Linked DNA regions of Homo sapiens. The protein of the gene in region 6 purifies or fractionates together with the protein of the main gene of each other region. This does not show direct contact. Each region holds a gene or a part of one and is shown on either strand. Other genes may lie near its edges.

The links.
Region 1: the proteins of IZUMO1 (region 6) and PTPRD purify together in Homo sapiens (affinity purification with mass spectrometry; 2 studies listed by BioGRID and IntAct, with this or other methods). This does not show direct contact.
Region 2: the proteins of IZUMO1 (region 6) and PTPRF purify together in Homo sapiens (affinity purification with mass spectrometry; one large-scale study listed by BioGRID and IntAct). This does not show direct contact.
Region 3: the proteins of IZUMO1 (region 6) and LRATD2 purify together in Homo sapiens (affinity purification with mass spectrometry; 2 studies listed by BioGRID and IntAct, with this or other methods). This does not show direct contact.
Region 4: the proteins of IZUMO1 (region 6) and CNOT6 purify together in Homo sapiens (affinity purification with mass spectrometry; 2 studies listed by BioGRID and IntAct, with this or other methods). This does not show direct contact.
Region 5: the proteins of IZUMO1 (region 6) and GHITM purify together in Homo sapiens (co-immunoprecipitation; 3 studies listed by BioGRID and IntAct, with this or other methods). This does not show direct contact.
Region 7: the proteins of IZUMO1 (region 6) and ANKRD13A purify together in Homo sapiens (affinity purification with mass spectrometry; 2 studies listed by BioGRID and IntAct, with this or other methods). This does not show direct contact.

The regions. Positions count from the first base shown.
Region 1 is NC_000009.12:8,517,003-8,520,502, reverse strand, and holds part of PTPRD (receptor-type tyrosine-protein phosphatase delta isoform 1 precursor), read left to right. Parts: intron 1-2,073; coding exon 2,074-2,655; intron 2,656-3,500.
Region 2 is NC_000001.11:43,596,883-43,600,382, forward strand, and holds part of PTPRF (receptor-type tyrosine-protein phosphatase F isoform 1 precursor), read left to right. Parts: intron 1-865; coding exon 866-1,171; intron 1,172-1,837; coding exon 1,838-2,031; intron 2,032-3,500. UniProt on the Homo sapiens protein: Possible cell adhesion receptor. It possesses an intrinsic protein tyrosine phosphatase activity (PTPase) and dephosphorylates EPHA2 regulating its activity.
Region 3 is NC_000008.11:126,551,943-126,554,456, forward strand, and holds the end of LRATD2 (protein LRATD2), read right to left. Parts: 3' UTR 501-2,514; downstream 1-500.
Region 4 is NC_000005.10:180,570,879-180,574,378, reverse strand, and holds part of CNOT6 (CCR4-NOT transcription complex subunit 6), read right to left. Parts: intron 3,150-3,500; coding exon 2,947-3,149; intron 392-2,946; coding exon 179-391; 3' UTR 1-178. UniProt on the Homo sapiens protein: Poly(A) nuclease with 3'-5' RNase activity.
Region 5 is NC_000010.11:84,146,009-84,149,508, reverse strand, and holds part of GHITM (growth hormone-inducible transmembrane protein), read right to left. Parts: intron 780-3,500; coding exon 671-779; intron 1-670. UniProt on the Homo sapiens protein: Plays an important role in maintenance of mitochondrial morphology and in mediating either calcium or potassium/proton antiport. Mediates proton-dependent calcium efflux from mitochondrion.
Region 6 is NC_000019.10:48,740,352-48,743,909, forward strand, and holds the end of IZUMO1 (izumo sperm-egg fusion protein 1 isoform 1 precursor), read right to left. Parts: intron 3,175-3,558; coding exon 3,094-3,174; exon of another isoform or gene 3,057-3,093; intron 1,959-3,056; coding exon 1,858-1,958; intron 1,622-1,857; exon of another isoform or gene 1,592-1,621; coding exon 1,438-1,591; intron 1,128-1,437; coding exon 950-1,127; intron 678-949; coding exon 557-677; 3' UTR 501-556; downstream 1-500. UniProt on the Homo sapiens protein: Essential sperm cell-surface protein required for fertilization by acting as a ligand for IZUMO1R/JUNO receptor on egg.
Region 7 is NC_000012.12:110,005,930-110,009,429, reverse strand, and holds part of ANKRD13A (ankyrin repeat domain-containing protein 13A), read right to left. Parts: intron 1-3,500. UniProt on the Homo sapiens protein: Ubiquitin-binding protein that specifically recognizes and binds 'Lys-63'-linked ubiquitin. Does not bind 'Lys-48'-linked ubiquitin.

The DNA.
Region 1 (3,500 bases), on a different chromosome or scaffold from region 6:
TATCTTCTTTTCCTAGGCAATGTTGTAGGCATTTGGAATTCAGCAGCAAGTAAGAAGTACAAGTTTGCTACTCTTGAAAAGCTGCCATTCTAGGGGGTGATCTTAGAAAATGCAATACACGTTATAATTGGTATCGCATCTCTAACCAAGCGTATATATCAAATATATGCTATATAAAACTAATGACATGAGAACAAAGGTACACATTGTCAACATTTACAATCGTGAAATAATGTTATATTGTGTAACCTTAATATAATAAGCACACATGTATTTATCCGTACATTACAGACATAAAACCTGTACTGTACAATAAATGTGACTTAGTGAAACTAATAATGTCAGCTAAATATCAGTGAGCACAGCTTTAATTAGCAATATTTGTATTTGCTTTGAAAGTTCAGAAAGACATGTAGGGGAAATCTGGAGCACACACAGCCTTGAAAAATGCCAGGTCAGAATATTTAAACAAATTTCATTTTATTATTATTTTCAGTAAATTCCCTTGACAAAATACTATCATTCTGTAGTTCTTTGAGTAGTGTGTAAATATTGAATCACCTTTTTTATAATTACCATTTCAGCTTTAAATATTTGAAGGCTTGCTGAAGACCTTTAAGAATTCAAAAGCAGGGGCCACTTTAAACTAATATTTTGTTCACCTTCTCATCTTTGTTTTCCTGACTCTTGCCACTTCCCTGTCTTTTCCACCTCAAAAATAAACAAATAAAACATAAGAGTGAATCTTAATGGCAAATTAAAATAAATCAAAACAAAAGAACAGGTTGAAGAGAATGAGGTGAATGGGTGCTGACTCATTTATTCAGTTAACTGTTTAACGATTCTCATTAAAAACCTACCGAGTGCCAGGCAGCATTCTAGGCATTCACAATTTTACAGTAAGTCAGAAGTACAAGTTTGCTGCTCTTGAAAAGCTGCCATTCTAGGGGGTGTTATACTTCTTGCCTTTATGTTGGCAAGGAAACAGGGACACTAATGGGCTGATTATATGAATGTTACCCTTTGAGATTTCTCTAAAGAGTCAACTATTAGAATGCCCCTTCCTACCCTAATAGCACTGCGTTTCAGAATCATTGTTTAGAATAAGGCACTTGAATATGAGGTCAGCAAAGCAGACAGTTTATATTTTTAATTAGTAGTATTTTGATTTGTATTCTTCTGCTAAAAAGAAAGAATTAGACCTCTAAAAAGATGGATTTTATTGCAAATATTTGTCATGTAGCTACATTGGATATTTCTGATGTGGAATATAGAATGCATATTAATATGACCATAACATACCTTAAAAAGTGATTGGTGAATGTGCCTTAATTTACTTCCTTCAGCAATTTTTAAATATTAAGAATAAAGCATTGATTTGAAATTTCTATTCTTTTGCACCTTAAAATTTTTGGTTTTTCATTTACAAGAAAATTTTTAGTAATGGTATTGTGTCTTACCAGAATATAGATGTTATTGTTTCATCGCAATTTAATTTCATTTCAATGTATTCCACATTTTGTTCTTTTCAATGTTTATCGGTATTTCAGTTATACCATTTATTTATTGGGGCAAGGGGCTAATTGGCCAAGCTTTTGGTATAATAATAGTAATAACTGCAGCTAATACTAAGGTTTTTTTGTGGGTTCCAGTTACATTCTAAGAATCTTAGTGGATTGGCTCATTAGTCTTCACAGCAAACCCATGAAATACAGTTACATACAGCTGTATAATATGACTTAAATAATAATATTTTTCCCATTTCCACATGAGGAAACTAAAGCAAAGAGAGGTTAAGAAATGCGTGCAGGATCACTTAGCTAATAAGTAGAGGATTTGGATACAAGCCTAAAAATATGCTATCAAGCCCTTCTAGGAAAGCAGGATTTGTGTCACCTATGAATGTTTTCCTGTCCTTCTTGGCCATTCAGAAAACTACTCTTTGCTATAATTTCATTTAATTAAATCTTCAGTAGATACATAATCCTGTCATTTTCATAGTAGAGTTTATAGATTTTTGAAATATTATAGGGATGATGGGTAGTCATTGTCTTTTATCTTCCCCCATCCAAGCCTTACCCAAACCTCCAGGAACTCCTGTAGTGACCGAGAGCACAGCTACAAGCATCACACTGACGTGGGACTCTGGGAACCCTGAGCCTGTTTCTTATTACATAATTCAGCATAAACCTAAAAACTCTGAGGAACTTTACAAAGAAATTGATGGGGTGGCGACCACACGCTACAGTGTCGCTGGACTAAGTCCCTACTCGGATTATGAATTCAGGGTTGTTGCTGTCAATAACATTGGGCGGGGGCCTCCCAGCGAACCTGTGCTAACACAAACCTCAGAGCAAGCACCATCCAGTGCCCCGAGGGATGTCCAGGCACGAATGTTGAGTTCGACCACCATTTTGGTACAGTGGAAGGAACCTGAAGAGCCAAATGGACAGATCCAAGGATATAGAGTTTATTATACAATGGATCCCACTCAACATGTCAACAACTGGATGAAACACAATGTAGCTGACAGCCAAATCACTACTATTGGCAACTTAGTGCCCCAGAAAACATATTCTGTCAAAGTCCTGGCTTTTACCTCAATTGGAGATGGTCCCCTTTCAAGTGACATACAAGTCATCACTCAGACAGGAGGTAAGTTTGGTTGAGGAGGGAAATAGGGCAGGAGGGAAGGGCTGGTGCAAAGAGGTGAGAAGGACAAAAACAAAGAAGGAACAAAGATGGTATGAATTTTAATTTTTGAGATTTAGGGCTTCAAAGCAACAGATGATAGATATCTGAAAAGGAACAAGCATGGACATCTGAAAAACTAATCATTTTGAGCAGAACAATGCATTAACACCCCTTCTTTTTAATTTGTATGGGAATGACTTGAAGACTTCTCTATGTGAGATAGAACAATGTCTCCCCCATGCCCAGTTTTGAGAATAGAAAAACGACACTTCTTTGTAATAGCTAGTATGGTAGAGTGGTCTCAAAAGAGTATTTAATTTGTGTAAGATTGGATGGTTCAAGACAAAGCTAAAAAATAAAACTGTTACAGGGCCTTGGGTATTTAAATGGCTTATATTTGCCAGAAGCTACTGGCTTGAAAATAAGTATTCTCTGAGTGGCTTTAATTTCTGTTTTTCTCTGTATGGCCTCAGTGGATAAAGAGAGACAGTTACCGAGATCTCAGATAGAACATTGGGCCTGATTGATTAACTTTGCTAAGAGCTACAGCAGACATTAGACTATTTTATGAAGGAAAACTTGGCCCTCCCAGTGGTTTTATTTTTCTAAGAGGTTATCAAACCTCTTTGGTCTTTGAGTCAAGGTGATCAGTTTGGCTTTGGGCTAATATAAAATAACAGGCCTCTTCTAAAGTTTATTCTTGAGCCACGCACAGTGGCTCACGCCTGTAATCCCAACACTTTTGGGAGGTAGGTGGATCACTTGAGGGTCAGGACTTTGAGACCAGCCTGGCCAATGGCAAAACC
Region 2 (3,500 bases), on a different chromosome or scaffold from region 6:
ACATTGTGTGTGAGAGTGTGTGTCAGATGCCATGTGTGAGACACCAAGACACGGGTATGTGATACTCTGTGTATATGTGAGTCTGTGTGAGAGACACTGATACTCCAAGACATTGTGTGTGTGTGACACTGTGAGACACCAAGACAGTATATGTGCGAGACAGCCTATGTATGTGACAGTGTGTGTGTGAGACACCATGAGAGACTGTGTATTTACTGTGAGAGACTGTGTGAGAGACACGTGTGAGACACTGTGTATATGACACTATGTATACGTGAGACTGTGAGACACTATGTGTATGTGACACTGTATATGTGTGAGACCGTATGAGACAGTGTATATGACACTGTATATGTGTGAGACTGTGTGTGTGAAACACTATATGACACTGTATATGTGTGACACTGTATATGACACTATATGTGGAGACTATGTGTGAGACACTATGTATATGTGACACTATGTATGTGTGTGACACTGTGAGAGACACTGTGAGACACCAAGACAGTATATGTATGAGACACCCTGTGTGTGTGACACAGCGTGTGACTGTGTGAGACGTGTGTGAGGCACTGAGACTGACACTGTGTGTGAGGCTGTGTGAGAGTCAGTGTGTGTGATAACTGTGTGTGTATCACCGTGTGTGTGTGTGAGAGAGGGAAGGAGAGAGAGGGAGGCAGGTCAGAGGGAGTCAGGTGTCCTTGGCGAGAGTGGCAGCAGCCTGCCTGGAGGGACCCTGGGATGGCCATTTCAGCACCTAAGGGGTAGCCTGCCCGGGTGAGTCTCCAGTCCACTGTGACTCAGTCATTGTGCCTGTGATCCCCACCCTCCATCTGCTTGCTTCCCCCCCATTTGTCTTCCCCAGCCCCCTCCGCCCCTCCCCAGAAGGTGATGTGTGTGAGCATGGGCTCCACCACGGTCCGGGTAAGTTGGGTCCCGCCGCCTGCCGACAGCCGCAACGGCGTTATCACCCAGTACTCCGTGGCCTACGAGGCGGTGGACGGCGAGGACCGCGGGCGGCATGTGGTGGATGGCATCAGCCGTGAGCACTCCAGCTGGGACCTGGTGGGCCTGGAGAAGTGGACGGAGTACCGGGTGTGGGTGCGGGCACACACAGACGTGGGCCCCGGCCCCGAGAGCAGCCCGGTGCTGGTGCGCACCGATGAGGACGGTAGGCAGTGCCACCGGGGCGGGAGGGGAGGCGTTCTGCCTCAGACACCACCCACCAAGCTCCCCAGGGCCTTCCTTTCCTGAACACAGGCCCAGGTCAACTCATCTTTCTGGTTCAGGTGTAATGGCCTAAAGTGGGGGGATGTCACTTACGGGATAACTGAGGCCCAAATCCCAGCCTTTGGGGCTGTCTCCAAAGCAGCTGAAACCTTCACAGGCTAAGATGGGAGAAGCAGCCCTGTCTAAGATTTGAAAGGTCAAGATTGGGCAGATTGGTGTAAAAGATACTCAAAGTAGAATCAGCAAGACTCCACGTTGGCTGGACATTGGCATGATTGGGGCCTAGGAGGAGTCAGGACAGGTTGTGCTGACTAGGGGTGGTCAAAGACCTGGTGCCCCACCTCCACCTGTTCCCCCATGTCGACCCTCCCCACCAAGTGAGAGGCCTGGGCCAGAGGGGTGGGCAGGGCCAGTCCTGGGCTCTTACCCGTGGCGGGCAGAGGGAGCCTTCCGTGTGCCTCACCAGGGACAGATGATCTAAGGAAACTGTATCAGGGCCTTTCCTGGGGGAGTGGGGTGCTGAGGCAGGACCCTCAAGTTTGCTGTGCCCACCTGAGCTAGGGTTGATACCTCCAGGCCTGACTTCCTTCTCTACCTGACCCCCCAGTGCCCAGCGGGCCTCCGCGGAAGGTGGAGGTGGAGCCACTGAACTCCACTGCTGTGCATGTCTACTGGAAGCTGCCTGTCCCCAGCAAGCAGCATGGCCAGATCCGCGGCTACCAGGTCACCTACGTGCGGCTGGAGAATGGCGAGCCCCGTGGACTCCCCATCATCCAAGACGTCATGCTAGCCGAGGCCCAGGTGCAGCATTGGGTGGTGGTGGGGTGGCAGGGTGAGCACAGACCAGCATGCACAAGCTCCCTTTTGGGGCCCAGATATGTCCCTCTTCCCCTGCCTGCCCTCAGCAGTGCTGTGACTGCCTTTCCTTGGTTGTGAGACCCGAGATGCTTTGCAGCATCAGGGGTTAGGCTGGGGTTTTTTGGGTGTGGGTTTTTTGTTTGTTTGTTTGTTTTGAGATAGAGCTTCACTCTTGTCGCCTAGGCTGGAGTGCCTCCTGGGTTCAAGCAATTCTCCTTCCTCAGCCTCCCGAGTAGCTGGGATTACAGGCGTCTGCCACTGCGCCTAGCCAATTTTCGTATTTTTAGTAGAGACAGGGTTTCACCATATTGGCCAGGCTGGTCTCGAACTCCTGACCTCAGGTGATCCGCCTGCCTCAGTCTCCCAGAGTGCTGAGAATACAGGTGTTAGCCACTGTGCCCCACCAGGTCGGGGTTTTGAGATGTGCCTTTCCCCTAGACAGTGCTGGGCTGGCATCCACTCTTCCCACAGAAAGGGTAGAGAGAGTGCTCCAGGGCTGTCTTACCCCACTGGCGGCCATGGGTCCGTGGTTGCTGCAAAGCTCTGTGAGTAGCCAAGTAGAGTGTTGCCCTGCTCCTGGCCCTGCAGGGAACGATTCAGCCCCTGATGTTCACCCTCAAGAGCTAGGCCTGCTGGCCAGCCTCACACCTCCCTCTGTGCACATCTGTCTTCCTGGGAGGATGGTCCTGCCCTTGAGCTTGGGGTGAGGTCCCTGGGGTATTCTGAACACTGGTTGCTATTCAGATGAAGAACTTGGAATGCTGGGGGGTTATGAGAGTGGTATGGAATTATTCAGCAAGTAGGTGGCTGCTGCGCTTGGATGAGAAGCCATGTCTGTGGACCCCTAGGAAAGGGCCACAGTTGCTGTCATGAGCCCCCTCCCAAAAGACCCTGCTGGAGAGTCACAACACCTGGTGTGGTGCTCTCAAGGTCTCCCTATCCAGGAGCAGGGCCTCCCCATTGAGCCTCTCACCTCTGCCTGGGTGGAGAGCAGGGGTGCGTGTACCACTCAATGCTGTACACACTGTGCAGAGGGGTGGGGTCACCCACACAGACAGGAGCCTTATTCCTCCAGCTGGGCTCAGCCATCTGAAGCAAAATTCTTTCTGCCCAGAGGGTGCTCTCTTCCCCCTCTCAGCCTGCCCAGTGCTAAGGCATCCGGGGTGGAGGAGGCAGGCATGTGCACCCACCTGCATTCCTGGGGCAGGTTGAGGGCTCCTTGTGGAGCCTCAGTGAACACACCTACCCAGAAACATCCCAGGAATGGGTTCCCCTAGCCCCTCCTCTCTGAGGGGGCCAGTGGCCACAGCTGTGGCCAGTGGGGTTCCAGAGAAGCCACTTCAAGTGCCCCCTTCTGGTCCCAAGAGGTTCGGAAGGGAGCTGGGCCAGAGGCTCAGGGACGCTGCCCATTT
Region 3 (2,514 bases), on a different chromosome or scaffold from region 6:
TGGCATCCCACACACCAGTCTGATGCCACATCTGTTCTCTTACCAACCACTGGCACCTGCATCCCTTATGCCAACAGTGCCGTGCCACTATGTTCACCCATTTTCTGTAATTATGTGGCAAATACGTTCCCTTCATCTGGAACTCTGAAGCCACTTAAGATGCAACACAGATTCCCGGTGGGCTACTAAACAGACTGCCCAGTGTAGACTCCATAATGAGTGTGGTTTCCAACAATTTTTGCATGGATTCTGAAAAATCACTATGTATTGAAAATTTATGTTCATAAGTCATTTTTCATGAACACTGATAGTTCAGCAATAACTGATTTTCACAAAGTAGATGCAGGGTTTTCAGTCACTAAATGAATTCAACAAAATGTTTACTGTGCAATACAAAGGTGATGCACGCTAATATTCTCAGAGAAATTATAGGAAACTGAGTAGCTTGAATTTGGACCAAAAATGTCAGAAAAAAGGTATTCAAGTGGAAAAAAATCCAGTGAACTCTAATAGATGGTTTATTGGAAACGCTCATAGCATCTTTTGAAAAGAACTTGACAGGTTTTATTTTAATAAGACATAGTGAAGAGGAAATGGCTTAAAAGATATCATCAATCTTTTATTTAACTAAGCACTGCCCTTCATTTTGAAGGAAATGATACAATTTCAAATCGGAACTTCCTTCTCAAGAAGTGATATAAGAATGTAACATTGATTTAACATACAACCTTCAACAAAAATAAAGTTTATACAACTCACTGGGAAATAAAATGCATGTGGAATTTATCCTGTTTGTCAACATAATTCTTCATGAGTCACAAGTATTATAGCCAAGAACAAAACAACAAAAAGCTGAATCAGTTGATAGTTACTCTGATTTAAAAAACATTTCACAAATAAGATGTAGCTTTCCAAACAAATCCATTCGATGACCATTATCACAACTATATTTTATTCTAATTTATAAAACAAAAAATGGTTAGACAAGCACATGATATCAAGAGTCTTCAACACAGTGGATTCCATTTTATTAAGAAAAAAAATAGAAAACAAGTAGTCCTTAAATTGTCTTAGCTCTCCATAGCATACGTTATATAAAATTAAAGTTTTGCTTCCAAAAATATGTTTCCATGTGGTCGTGGTGTTGTCCAGTGCTATTAGGGCCAAAGCACCAAAGACATGAGAAGTTTAACCATCGACTTGTCATTTTTCATAAAAACTAAACATTTCCTTATAGGTCTGGAGTAAAATCTTCTAGGCATTTTAGTGCTAAAAGTCACTTTAAATTAAATGTGAAATAAAAGCTACAAAAAGTATGAGTTCTTTCAATACAAAAAGTTGTGTAGCTGAAGTTGTGGGCTCCTTTGACATACATAAGCAGTTTCAATAAAATATTTGCTCAGGTAAGAAAATAGAAATTTGTCTGCTTTCATTTAGCATACGTTCCAGTCGATGTCCTGCTTATCCCTGCCAGAACTTCTGAAGAACATTAGAATCGATATTTCTTTCCTTCAAAGAGCATCCGTAATTCACAGTACAAAACAGTTCTACAGTCTTATTCCTAAGGAGAAACAAAAATTATTAAATATGTTTATTTTTTCTAAAGTGTCAAATGTAGCCACTGCCAGGGCATTAAAAACTCACTTATCCACAACACTGCCGTCTTCAGGAAAGAACCAAGAGTTGATTCATTCCCCTTTCCTGGAGCTGTTACTAGTTGGTTGTTGCTTTAAGTGTAATAACCCTAAGAAAATTCCCAATAAAAATCACTGTTCTTAAGTGTCACATATTTCACACCTCTGGTACCCTGTAGAAACGCTTGTATTACATGGGAAAGCAGCATCTGAAAAGATCTATTTCCTATTCTAGTTCATTTCCAAGCCCTGTTATTGAAAACCTCTTCTCTAGAAGAGAGAGTCACTGCTCTCTCTTAACACAGTCGCTGCTATACTTCAGCGTGACTGACCATACATCATTTTCCATTCTGGGACAGAGGAAGAAGACGGGTGGGGGAGTTGATCTGGCTAGCCCAGAGCTGGACAGTGCCATTCTATTCTTCCCTCCCACTTGTCTACACGGTGGTTATTACTACTTGCTCTGCTGCCCAGGCTGGAGTGCAGTGGTGCGATCTCGGCTCACTGCAACCTCTGCTTCCCAGCTTCAAGCAATTCTTCTGCCTCAGGCTCCCAAGTAGCAGGCATTACAGGCGCCTGCCACCACGCCCAGCTAATTTTCTGTATTTGTGGTAGAGACAGGGTTTCGCCATGTTGGCCAGGCTGGTCTCGAACTCCTAACTTCAGGTGATCTACCTGCCTCAGCCTCCCAAAGTGCTGGGATTACAGGCATGAGCCACTGTGCCCGGCCTACCTTCTATTTTCACTACTGTGTTAAGCATGAAAGAAAATCCAACTGGGTTAGATACAGCAGGTTCTCCTAAATGTCTTAACCCATGTTTATCTTGTTCTGCTATTCCATGAGCAAAGAGAATAAACACAAAGCTGTGAGAGTATTAAA
Region 4 (3,500 bases), on a different chromosome or scaffold from region 6:
CAGAATTTGTCTGTTGCTAGCACCTGGCTTTCATACTATATCCTTATCAAATAATCAGATTGAAAGTCCAAATCATTCTTAAGCAAGCAAAAATCCTCAGTGGCCATACCTCACTCCCCTATGTTCAGATTTTCACAAGTTTACAAGTGAATCAAGGCTGTCCTCTGAAGGTGCTTGACTACCTCCTGCCAGGAAGGTGGATGCCGTTGACTTGGGGCAGGAAAGGCAGTAAGAGCTCCAGTTGTGCAAAAAGTGAGAAGTGGTCAGAGGGGATGAGGGGGTGCGGGCAGCCACTGATGTTATTCTCAACCAGCCAGTGGTGGTCCAGAGGGCCCAGGATGCCTAAGGTGTTCAGCTGAGGTTTAGAATAGAAAATGTAGTCTATTATACCCTGAAAAACAACAGAAAAAAAGATAAGCACCGTATAAGACAACACTAAAATCCTCAGTGCTTTCAAGACATGCCTTTATGTCATGTTTGGTGAACAGAACAGAACAAGTGAAACTTACTAGCTTGTAGGATGAGGTCTGTACTACATACACCAAATGGTCCCCGTGCAAAATGTCAAATCTAGCAGAATGAAGCATTCTTCTTATCTGGATCTTTAACAAGACCTAAAAGGCCTTTCAGGATGCAGCCTCTGCTTCTCTTTCCTAGCCTAATTTGTGCCACTTTCCCTGCTTCCACACTAGCCTTTGGAATGAGAAAGGGGTGAGGATGTGAGGGGACCTATAGGTACCAAGTTCTTTCCTGCCCCAGGACGGACGGACGGACGGACACACACACACACACACACACACACACACACACACACACACACACACACTGCCCCCCTCCACCATTCTGCCTGGAACACTTTCTTCTACTTGTTATGAGGTCAATTCCTTCTTAATCTTTCAATGTCAGGTTCAACTGCTTTCCAAAGACCTTCCTGAATCCTGCTCCTACCTACTTACTACCCTACCTCTCACCACAGATTCACTTCCCTTGCTAATGGCCATCTCAAGGTGTAATTATCTACTCATTTGTGTGGTTGAGACTTGTCTCTCTCATCACACCTCAGCTCCATGAGGGCAGGACTGTCTCTACCTGACCCCCTTTTCTCTCAGCAGCACCCCGCCATGGCATCTACTAAACTGTTCCCATCTGATGGTTCTGGTCCTCCCCTCTACATGCTCTTGGCCAAATGTACTGAAGCACATTCAAGTGTCTTCTTCCTGCCACTGCATCAGCAACAGAAAGAGAAAGAAAACGCTAAGCATTCCCACTCTGTGGCTGCTACCCATGCTTTCTCTTCAATGTCTCCTGAAGAACCTGAAAGGAAGGGGCACCTGAGGATAAACAGGGGTTTACTTTCTATGCTCTAAGGTGCAAAGGCTCCTGAGATACTATCTAAACTCTTATTTACACTCTGACAGTCTAATCTAAATGATTACTTTTCCAGCAGCTTAGAAATAGAAAGCTGGGAGTTAAGAAATTTTTAAGAAAGCAGAAATGCAAAAAGTAGTTTAAAAGGGCAGCTGAGCCAGATGTGGTAGCTCCCGTCTATAATCCCAGCACTTTGGGAGGCTAAGGCAGGAGGATTGCTTGAGGCCAGGGGTTCAAGATTGGGCTGGGCAATATAGCAAAACCTTGTCTTTACAAAAAATTACCAAAAAAAAAAGATCTGGGTATGGCGGCGGACACCTGTAGTCCAAGTTAGCGGGGAGGCTGAGGCAGGAGGGTTGCCTGAGCCCGAGAGTTTGAGGCTGCAGTGTGTTATCATCACATCACTGTACTTCAGCCTGGGCAAAATGAGTGAGACCATATCTCTTTTTAGAAAAAGGACAGTTGAACACAAGAAAGTGACAGCCCTAAACAATCACTAACGTTAAAAATGGTGTAAGTCTGACCAGGTGCGGTGGCTCATGCCTGTAATCCCAGCACTTTGGGAGGCCAAGGTGGGTGGATCACTTGAGGCCAGGTATTCAAGACCAGCCTGGCCAACATGGTGAAACTCCGTCTCTACCAAAGATACAAAAATTAGCCAGGTGAGGTGGCTCATGCCTGTAATCCCAGCTACTTGGGAGGCTGAGGTATGAGAATCACTTGAACCTGGGAGGTGGAGGTTGCAGTGAGCCGAGATCACGCCACTGCACTCCAGCCTGGGCAACAGAGCAAGACTGTCTCTAGGGGGAGAAAAAAGATGTATCTTAGAAACACTTAAAAATAGCTAATATAAATCACATTTTGGCATGCAAGAGTTTACTTTCAGTTAAATTAAAATGTAAGAGAAGGAACATCTTACCACAAATGCCACTCAAACTAGATAATTATGGTGCTGCATATCTAGCTATTAGTAATGAGAATATAAGAAACATAATTGTCCCCAAAAGGTGAAAAAGTCAACTTAGGAATTTTACAGATTATTTCATGTGACTTCTTATCCTGAAAATTATTAGAATAAATATCTACAAAGTAAGGATGTGACACTGATCACATGGACTTCTAAAAAAGAGTAATAAAAGAATATTACTGGCTGAGCACAGTGGTTCACGCCTGTAATCCCAGCACACTGGGAGGCTGAGGTGGAAGAATCATTTGAGGCCAGGAGTTCAAGATCAGCCTGGGCATAGCGAGACCCCATCTCTACAAAAAATACAAGAATTAGCCAGGCGTGGTAGTAGGCGCCTGTAGTCCCAGCTACTAGGGAGGCCGAGGTGAGAGGATCGTTTGAGCCGGCATGGTTGAAGCTGCAGTGAGCCATCACTGTGCCACTGCACTCCAGCCTGGGTAACAGAGTGAGACCTTGTCTCAAACAAAAAACAAAGAACATTGCTGTCAATGAATTCAAGACTGCTTCATTCCAGCCTGAACACACAGCCACAGTTTTAAAGACATAATGATGTATCAGAACACCTGCCAGTAAAAGACAGGTTTGAAAAGCTTATCAGTCTCAAGACACACCTTGAAATCAAATGTGTAATTCGTGTAAGGCATCAGGCCACTCTCATAGGCACTCTGTAACTTGAAACCATGAGTGATCCTTCCATTGGTGGTTCCATTCTTCCCATGACAGCTGAAGTTTGTGAGACTTTCATTATACCTCAACTCCTTAAAGTCTTTGTGATTTGTTTCTACTCCACCTGTGCTCAAATATTCTACAACACCTACAATGAAGACAAATTTTTTTATTGTCAAATATATACAAAAAGTAATTTTAAAAGATCATGCAATAGTAAGAAGTTTTAAACTATACATATTCCCACGTTCCAAAATGTTTCCTTTTACATTTGCCAGGACTTGCCCAAATCTATTTTTACACAGTTGTCATCACAGAGTATTGAATAGTTTATAATTTGCTTTATGAACATGTGTCTTCCCAATTATCGTTCTTTAATGGCTGCACAATGCAATTGGGCTGGTGGATAATATTTACTGGTTACTTATTTTGTAAAATGCAGGTTGTTTCCACTTTTTACAAAGAATTAAAGATAACACCACGATCAGCATCTTAGTAT
Region 5 (3,500 bases), on a different chromosome or scaffold from region 6:
AACTCCTTAATTGAAAAAAAACTTAGATAATGCATTATTTCAGTGCTAAGAAGAATAAGTTACCTTTTTCTTAAATGTCGTTTACCTCATAGACTAGGCACAAAGCTATCTTTATACTGAATTTTCAATACTAGCTTAAAGAATAACATTTCTAGATCAAGTTATATGGTTAATAAGGTATACTATCTCATGATGATGAATAATTTAAAAATACTTTTTGCTCTAGGCAAAACAGTGGGTGAAATTTCTACACAGAACACTTCTATTAGGACTCCTCTCAGTTTTTTGTTATTTCGCAGCAACATTTTTAGCACAACTTTCTCTATCCTCAGTTTTTAATTTTTCTAAACATACCAGACAAAAACAACTCTCAAATGATGCGTACTAGATATAAAACCCTCCTGGTATCGAACAAAATACACAAAAGTAAATCTCTGCATATACTAGACTGTCAGAAGATACAAGTTTCGTATTGAAGATGTCCATGGTCTTAGCAAAATCAACTTTTCAAAGCAAAGGTCTGGCAATAATGCAGCCAGTAATGACTGAAGAAAATGGTGTTTTCTAAACATGAGGCTTAAATTCCATGTAGGTCATTTACAACTGTGAAGAGCCACCCAAAAAAGGTGGTAGTCAAGGTTGTCTCGTAACAATTTAAAACAGAACATACCAGAATGTAGCAACCAAGCAAGATGCTTTGGGCCTGGGCTCTGGTCATATGGTATTGATCGTACCAGCATTCCAGCTCCAACCATGGCTGCAAAGGTCACACCAATTGTCTGAAAGACAAGTACTATTAAGAAAAACTGATCTTTATATGAAAACAAAGCAGAAACCCACAGGTTTGAAGTACAATTAGTTACTTCTAATAAACTAGTTGTAAAAATATTAAAGATAATAAATCAAAGCTTAAGGCCAGGCGTGGTGGCTCACGCCTGCAATCCCAGCACTTTGGGAGGCTGGGGCAGGTGGATCACCTGAGGTCAGAAGTTTGAGACCAGCCTGGCTAACTGGTGAAACCCTGTCTCTACTACAAATACAAAAATTAGCCAGGCGCAGTGGTGCGCGCCTGTAGTCCCAGCTACTTGGGAGGCTGAGTGAGGTGGGAAAATCACTTGAACCCGGGAGGTGGAGGTTGCAATGAGGCAAGATCGTGCCACTGCACTCTAGCCTGGGTGACAGAGCGAGACTCCATCTCAAAATAAAAAAATAAAAAATAAAAAATAAAAAATAAAAACTTTAATTTTTCTGGCACATTAAAAGCTCTGGGTTTATTTCAGAGTTTTGGCTAAGTTAGCACGAGTGCCCCCTACTGCCATATATGAGGTTTTGCAGACAGCTTCAAATGCATGTCTTAAGCTTGAACTGGCAACACATCTTTTAACAATTTTACTCTTGTTGGACAGAGGTGAAACAAAAACCCTTTAGGGATCCCAAGATAATTAACTCTTAATTAAAAAATATATTTTTGTATAGCACAAATAGCATTTTCTTTAAAATCAGTGATGCTTACAAATTAGTAATTTTTAAAAAAAATATATATAGCACATCACTTTGAACTCCATATTTGCTAAATGAAGACTTGAAAAATAGAAAGTAGATTATCACAGCACATGGAAAAGAAAAATGAGAAATAAGATTCTACACTTCTACCCTTCCAGGTTTATGGCTAATTTGGTCCTCATTCCTTTTCTTTGCCTATCTTAGATTTCCAGTGTTATAATTAAATATTGCTTGTGTATGACAAGAAGAATGTATTAACATGTAATGGAAATAAGATGGTGCTAATCTCCAAGAAATTTAAATCAGAGATTGCAAACTTGTAGCCCTTGGAATCAGGCCACAGATGTTTTGTTTGGCAAACTATGTTTAAAAAAACAAACAAAAAAAAAGAACATGGTGAATGGTTTTAGTTGAAAAGGTTAACTCTAGATGTCAGTAACCTCTAGATGTCAACAATCTCCTGTGTGACACACTAGGCCTCCTCACTCATCTGTATTATCTGTCTCACCTATGAACATCAAAATATTCAACCTCTAATATAAAGTACAGGTAAACCAAATAGCTGGTTTTGCCAAGAATGGGAAAACCTTAACATGAAAAAGCATACTGAGCTGGGTGTAGTGGTATGGACCTGTAATGTCAGTTACTTGGGTGGCTGAGGTGAAAGGACCACTTGAGCCTGGGAATTTAAGCCAAGCCTAGGCAAACATAGAGATCTAGTCTCTATTTTTAAAAAACATTAAAAAGAAAAGAAAAGCATATCGAGCTCCACTCCACCATTTTCTAACGAGAAATAATTACTACAAACTATTTCACACATCCTCTGTGGACAGCAGCAATTAAATTTTTTTAAGATCTTCTATGATCCAGTCTCACTCCAAACTCTGCATTCCAACCATACGGAACTGGCACAGCTGCCAACATGCCCCAAAATTTCAGGCCTCCTTAATTCAATCCATCATGCCTAAGAATATCTCCTTCCATATCTGGTCGACTTACTCTGGTACTGTCTCATCTCAAAAGCTTTTTCTAGTAGGTACCCTGGCTGCCCAAGAGCAAGATCAGATACCTCTCCTCAGATGCACTTGGGACAAACTTTGACATTATCTGTGTGTCTATGTGTGTGTTTGTATATATATGTCTGTCACACCCAAAAGGTTACATCTTCATCTCTGTAACACTTGTCTTTGGCTTTCCTATTTTCTGTATTACTAACAGTGGAAGAGGGTAATCTTTTGCCCAGAAGGGACTGAGGATATGGCCCAAACACAAAACTTCTTTGAAGCCTCATTTTAGGGCCTAAAATTTTAGGTAAATATTGTCATGTTTATTACAAAAGTATTGTTTTAAATTATTTGCTTCTGATTAAAACTGACATCCCCAGTGAAACATTCTGTGCCTTTGTGAACCTCTGGGCTGGGAGATTCATGACGTCTATGTGAAAAAGCATGATCCTAAGAATATATAAATATCCAAATGGCTGCTACTGTAAATGGTTATCCTTTAGTAAAGTACAACACAGTGAAAATAATATGGTTTTCGTCCCTATGTGGGGAATCAGTGTTACATGAACTCTCCTTCCCCTCCAGTATCACACTCTGCTCTAGTTCAGGTTCTTATCATCCCTCATTTCAGATCTTACAAAGGCACAGCTGGTACACCTGCTCCATGTCTCTTCCACATTGGTTCTAAAAACTCAAATATAAATCACGCTTTTGTTGTTCCAGTATCTCCAATGGCCTCCGACTGCTTAGGTTCTCTCCTCAGCTTGACAACTGTATCCTTTCTAACCACGTCTTCTTTACCCTCCAGACCTCAAACACTTGAATTTCCCTCTAATGGGATTGTAAGTCACCTCTGAAATTAGGTTTTCCTACCTCCTCTTCCCTTAAACTGTTTGGTAAAATTGGACCGCCCTTGTCTACTTAAAAAAATTTTTTTTTAATTTTTAAAATTTTCTATTTCTTTAAAAATTACAGACAGTGTCTCACTATGTT
Region 6 (3,558 bases):
TGGACTCCGAGTCAGAGGGAGGAGGGGGCTGGGGCTCAGACTTGCGAGTCCAGGGGGAGGAGAGGGATGGTACCCTGGATTCCTGGGTCCTGGGATGGAAGATGGCTGGGGGACTGAGTCTTGGGGCCCAGGGAGGAGGGGTTTGGGCTGCTGGGTCCCTGGCTCTTACCCTGCTTCGGGTCCGGCACACCCGGAGGCCCTGGCTCCACTGGCCTGGGTCAGTTCCACTGCTCTTGCCTCTGCCACGGCTCCCAGCACTGGGTGGGGGACAGGAAAAGGCAAGAGGAAACCCGGCAGGAAGAGCGGGGAGGGGGCGTCCTGTGAGGAGACCAGGCCTGGGGGAGGAGATCTGGGTAGGGTTGGCCCTGCCCCATTCCTTGATTCTGGAATTACATCGCAGTCAGTTGGTCCCCTCCAGGACCCAAGGGTCCCGGTTTTCTGCCCTTCCTCCCTCAGGCCGGAGCCCATCCCCAGACCTCTCCTCTCGGGGAACCAAAGGCTAGAATCAGTCCCGTCCCGGGGAGTGAGTCAGATGCTTAGACAACAAGATAAATCTTTATTGTTGCCTCGAATCTGTGGCCTTTTCTTTTGGGACCTGGGTTTGCTCGGCCGCTCCACTGCCAAGGCCAAACAGTGAGGATTTGATGAAATCGATCACCTTCCTTCGACGAAATATCCTAGGGGTGGGAGTGGGGTGCAGATCATGGAACCGGTTTGGGTACTAATTGTGTGGGGGACACCCCTCCCAACCTCCCCCTTTGTGACCTTATTCTAGCAATTACCTAAGCCTCGCCCTTCGAAGTCCTCCTATTCAAGCCCCCCGCACTCCATCCCCAGGAAAGTCCTGCTCTCAGGCCTCAGTAGCCCCCAGACCAGCTTCTGTGTTGGGTTCCTGGAAGCCCCGCCCCTTACTCCAAGCCAAGCCTGTCTTCTTCAATGGGTTGCTTACGCAAAGGTAAGGCCGGTTATCAGTGCTAGGGAGCCGCAGATCAGCAGCCCCAGAAGGCGGCTTGCCAGCATTTTCTCGGGCTGCAGAGGCTGGAGGCTTATGGACGACTCCGTGGTCGCCTCCCCCGGGGTTACGATATTTGGAGAAGGTTTTTCCTCCTTGATCATTTTGGGCAACACTGTTAGAGAAAGCGTAAAGAGCAGTCCTGGCAGGGCGTGGAGTTCCTGCCCTGGCAAAGACAAGCCCGTCCCAGTAGCCGGCCATCCCAGAGATAATCACGCCTTCAACAGTGTCAAGCCTGAACACACCCAAGGGAACCCCTGTCCTCGGGGCCAGAGGCCACGCCCCCGGCAGGAAGCCACACCCCGTGCCCCGAAACCACACCCAACAGGAAGTCACGCCCCCATCGCCAAGGCCACGCCCCCGCCGCGGACCCCAGCTTTCCTGGGCCCTGAATCCTACACTTCTCTCAGCCCCACAGCACTGACCTGTGACGTGAAAATTGATGATCGTGGCTGGGCTGGAATTCACAGAGCCCAGCTCGCAGCGGTAGCTGCCTGCATCCTCTGGACCCACCATGGGCTTGGTCAGGGTGGCCTCTTTCCCCTTGGACACCAAGGTCTCCGTATTGTTCCCCCAAACCTAGACCCAAGCTCAAGGGGTCACTGAGGCCTGAGGAATTCAGGGGTTGGGGGAGTACAGGGGTGAGAAGATCACAGGGCCTCAGTGTGGGAGGTGAGTGTCCAGGGTGTCACTGGTCAGGGCACGGGGTCCCCAGAGGTCTGTAGAGACCACACCTAATAGACCACCCTCCTGGGTCATGAGAATCGTGGGTGCAGGCCCATAGATCCAGAACACAAGTATTGTAGTCTAGGGAGTTCAAGGGTTACAGAAGTTGAGGCCCTCACCCTGTAAAAGCTGTAATCAGTGAGGCCTTCCGAAGCCTGATGCCAGTTTAACTCACAGTCCAGGATCATGTCTTCCATTTGAGGAACTTCCACATTCCGCTCTGGGGGTGGGGGATGACCATGGGACACTCATGATTCTGTTTTTGTTTTTGTTTTTGAGATGGAGACTCGCTCTGTCGCCCAGGCTGGAATGCATTGGCGCGATCTCGGCTCACTGCAACCTCCGCTTCCTGGGTTCAAGCGATTCTCTTGCCTCAGCCTCCTGAGTATCTGGGACTACAGGCGCTTGCCACCACGCCTGGCTAATTTTTGTATTTTTAGTAGAGATGGGGTTTCACCATATTGGACAGGCTGGTCTGGAACTCCTGACCTCAGGTGATCTGCCTGCCTCAGCATCCCAAAGTGCTGCGATTACAGGCATGAGGCACTGCGCCGGGCCTCCTTCACGGTTCTTTACCCTCCCCTAATCCTTTACATTTGTTGTAACCTCGTCTTTTCTCTTTTCTTTCTCTCTCTCTTTTTTTTTTTTTTTTTTTTTAGATGAAGTCTCACTCTGTCACCCAGGCTGGAGTGCAGTGGCGCGATCTTATCTCACTACAACCTTCGCCTCCTGAGTTCAAGCAATTCTCTGCTTCAGCCTCCTGAGTAGCTGGGATTACAGGTGCCCACCACCATGTCTGGCTAATTTTTTTGTATTTTTAGTACAAAAACGATGGTTTCACCATCTTGGCCAGGCTGGTCTTGAACTCCTGACCTTGTGATCCACCTGCCTCGGCCTCCCAAAGTGCTGGGACTACAGGCGTGAGCCAGCGCGCCCGGCCTCTTTTTTTTCTTTTTAGACAAGGTCTCACTCTTTTGCCTGGGCTGGAGTGCAGTGGTATGATCATAGCTTACTGCAGTCTCCAACTCCTGGGTCCAAGCAATCCTCCTGCCTCAGCCTTCCAAGTAGCTGGGACTACAGGAACGCAACACCACACCTGACTAATTTTTAAATTTTTTTGTAGAGATAGAGTCTCGCTATGTTGCCCAGGCTGGTCTCAAACTCCTGGCTTCCCAATCCTCCCGTCTCAGCCTCTCGAAGTGCGAGACTATAGGTGTGAACCACTGCACCTGGCCTAAACCCTACCTTTTCTTGTCTACTGCCCCCACACCCCCATCTAGGCTCTCTCTAGACTGCCTCTCCTCTCGCCCCACCCCACCTGCACCAATTCCTCCTGCTGGGTCCAGTTCTCTCACCCCCGCAATCGTAGGACTTTCGACAAGCGTGAACCTCCTTTTTGCAGTTCTTGCACCAGATCAGAGTTTGCAACATCACACCTGGAGGGGCAGGGTCAAGGCTTGTATTTGCCCACTAAGGGGCATGGCTAAAAGGAGAGGTCAGGGCTAAGGGCTGGGGCCAGATCATCTATGACATTCCTAGATGGTCAGACGAAGGCACAGGACCAGGACGCAGGTAAGTAGTAAGTGGGCTCCAACAAGGCTCAGTAAAGATTGTAAGTAGAGGCCGGATGCGGTGGCTTACTCCTGTAATCCCAGCACTTTGGGAGGCCGAGGCGGGCGGATCACAAGGTCAGGAGTTCAAGACTAGCCTGACCAACATGGTGAAACCCCGTCTCTGCTAAAAATACAAAAATTAGCTGGGTGTGATGGCGGGCACCTGTAATCCCAGCTACTCAGGGGGCTGAGGCAGGAGAATAGTTT
Region 7 (3,500 bases), on a different chromosome or scaffold from region 6:
AATATTAGCAACTCTACAGAAATAAAAAGGATTATAAAAGAAAACTATGGGCCGGGTGCAGTGGCTCATGCCTGTAATCCCAACACTTTGAGAGGCCGAGGCGGGTGGATCACTAGAGGTCGGGAGTTCGAGACCAGCCTGACCAACATGGAGAAACCCCGTCTCTACTAAAAATACAAAATTAGCCGCGCGTGGTGGCACATGCCTGTAGCCCCAGCTACTCAGGAGGCTGAGGCAGGAGAATTGCTTGAACCCGGAAGGCGGAGGTTGTGGTGAGCCGAGATTGTGCCATTGCACTCCAGCCTGGGCAACAAGAGTAAAACTTCGTCTCAAAAAATAAAATAAAATAAAAGAAGACTATGAACAACTGTATGCCAACAAATTAGACAACTTAGATGAACAAGATAAATCCCTACAGAAATGCAAACTAGCAAAACTGACTCAAAAAGAAACCAAAAATCTGAATAAGTTTATAACAAGAGATTGAATTAGTAATTTTAAAACTGCCCACCAAAAAAAATGCAGGCCCAGATGGGTTTTTTTTCCAGACTGAGTCTCGCTCTGTCGCCCAGGCTGGAGTATAGTGGCACAATCTCAGCTCACTGCAACCTCCACCTCCCAGGTTCAAGTGATTCTTGTGCCTCAGCCTCCTGAGTAGCTGGGATTACAGGTGCCCACCACCACACCTGGCTAATTTATGTACTTTTAGTAAAATTGGGGTTTTGCCATGTTGGCCAGGCTGGTCTTGAACTCCTAACCTCATGTGATCTGCCCACCTCAGCCTCCCAAAGTGCTGGGATTACAGGCACGAGCCACCATGCCTGGACTTCACTGGTGAATGCTATTAAACATTTAAAGAATTAATACCAATGTTTCACAAACTTTTCCAATAAATAGATGAAGAAGGAAAACTTTCCAATTCATTTTATGAACCCACTATTATCCTGATGACAAATGCGTCACAAGAAAAGAAAACCACACACTAATATCTCTTATGATATAGATGCAAAAATCCTCCACGATATACTGGCAAACTAAATTCAGCAACATATAAAAAGGGTATTATACACTATGACCAACTGAGACTTATCCTACAAATATAAGAATGGTATAACTTCAGATAGTCAATTAACGTATTACACCATATCATAGGATAAAACAAAATACATGATCATCTCAACAGCTGCAGCAAAAACATCTGACAAAACTCCAACATCCCTTCATGATTAAAAGAAAAAAACCAAAACTCTCAACATACTAGGAATAAAAGGAAACTTCCTCAAAAAGCATCTCTAAAAAACCCACAACTAACATCATAGTTAATGGTGAAAGACTGGATGTTTCCCCTCTAAGATGAGGAACAAGATGAGGATGTCCTCTTTCACCATATCTAGTCAACATTGTACTAGAGATTCTAGTCATGGCAACTGGGCAAGAAAAATAAATAAAAAGCATCCAGAATGGAAAGGAAGATGACATGATCTTGTGTATAAAATCCTAAGGAATCCACCAAAAAACTATTAGAACTATTAAATGAGTTCAGCAAGGTTTCAGGACACAAGATCAATAACTAATCAATTATATTTCTACATACTTGTAATGAGCAACTCAAAAATGAAATTAAGACAACAATTCCATCTATAATAGCATCAAAAAATAAAACATTTAGGAATAAATATGACACAATAAATATAAAACTTACATACTCTTAAACCATAAAACATTGTTTAAAAAAAATTAAAGAAGAACTGGCCTGGTGTGGTGGCTCACACCTGTAATCCCAGCACTTGGGGAGGCTGAGGTGGGCGGATCACCTGAGGTCGGGAGTTCGAGACCAGCCTGACCAACATGGAGAAACCCCACCTCTACTAAAAATACAAAATTAGCCGGGCGTGGTGGCACATGTCTGTAATCCCAGCTACTTGGGAGGCTGAGGCAGGAGAATCGCTTGAACCTGGGAGACGGAGGTTGCAGTGAGCCAAGATTGTGCCATTGAACTCCAGCCTGGGCAACAATAGTAAAAACTCCATCTCAAAAAACAAACAAACAAAAAAAACCTCAAAAAATTAAAGAAGACCTAAATAAATTGAAAAACATCCTTATGCTCATGGTTTAAAAGACAATATTGTTAAAATGACAAAACTCTCCAAACTGAGGTATAGATTCAATTCAACTCCTATCAAAATCTCAGCTGGCTTTTTGCTGACATTGACAAGCTGATCTTAGAATTCATGTGGAAATGCAAGAAACCTAGAATAGCCACCTTGAAGAGAGAGGTCTGAGGACTCACATTTCACGCTTGCCAATTTTAAAACGTACTACACAAAGCTACAGCAATCAAGACAACGTGGTACTGGCATAAGGACAGACATACAGGTCAATGGAATACAATTTAGAGTCCAGAAATAAACCCACACATTTATGGTCAATTGATTTTCAACAAGGGTGCCAAAATAATTCATTGGGAAAGAACTGTCCTTTCAACAAGTGCCGCTTGAACAACTGCATATCTACATGCAAAAGAACAAAATTTTGGCTGAGCTCATTGGCTCATCCCTATAATCCCAGCACTTTGGGAGGCCAAGGCGGGAGGATCACCTGAGGTAGGGAGTTCGAGATCAGCCTGATCAACATGGAGAAACTCCATCTCTACTAAAAATACAAAATTAGCCAGGCATGGTGGCGCATGCCTGTAATCCCAGCTACTCGGGAGGCTGAGGCAGGAAAATTGCTTGAACCTGGGAGGCGGAGGTTGTGGTAAGCCGAGATCACACCATTGCACTCCAGCCTAGGCAACAAGAGCGAAACTCCATCTCAAAAAAAAAAAGACAACCCATGGAATGGGAGAAAATATTTGCAAATCACATACTGATAAGGGCCTACTATCCAGAATATGCAAAGAACCTTTACAACTCAACAAGTCAAATAACTCAATTTTTAAATGGGCAAAGGATTTGAGATGACATTTCTCCAAGGAAGATACACAAATTGCCAATAAGCACATGAAAAGATGCTCAACATCATTAATCATAAGAGAAATGCGAATCAAAACCACAATGAGATGCCACTTCACACCCACTAGGATGCGTACAAACAAAACAACAGATAATACCAAGTGTTGACAAGGATGTGAAGAAACTGGAATCTCATACACTGCTGGTGGAAATGTAAAATAGTGCAGCCACTTCGAAAAATTGCTGGCAGTTCCGCAAAAAGTTAAAACATAGAGTAACTACATGACCCAGCAATTCCTCTCCAAGGTATATACCCAAGATAAATGAAAACATATACCCATACAAAAACTTATACATGGGGCTGGGTGCAGTGGCTCATGCCTGTAATCCCAGAACTTTGGGAGGCCAAGGTGGGCTGATCACTTGAGGTCAGGAGTTCAAGACCAGCCTGGCCAACATGGTGAAACCCCATCTCTACTAAAAATACAAAAATTAGCCAGGCGTGGTGGTGCACACCTGTAATCCCAGCTACTAGGGAGGCTGAGA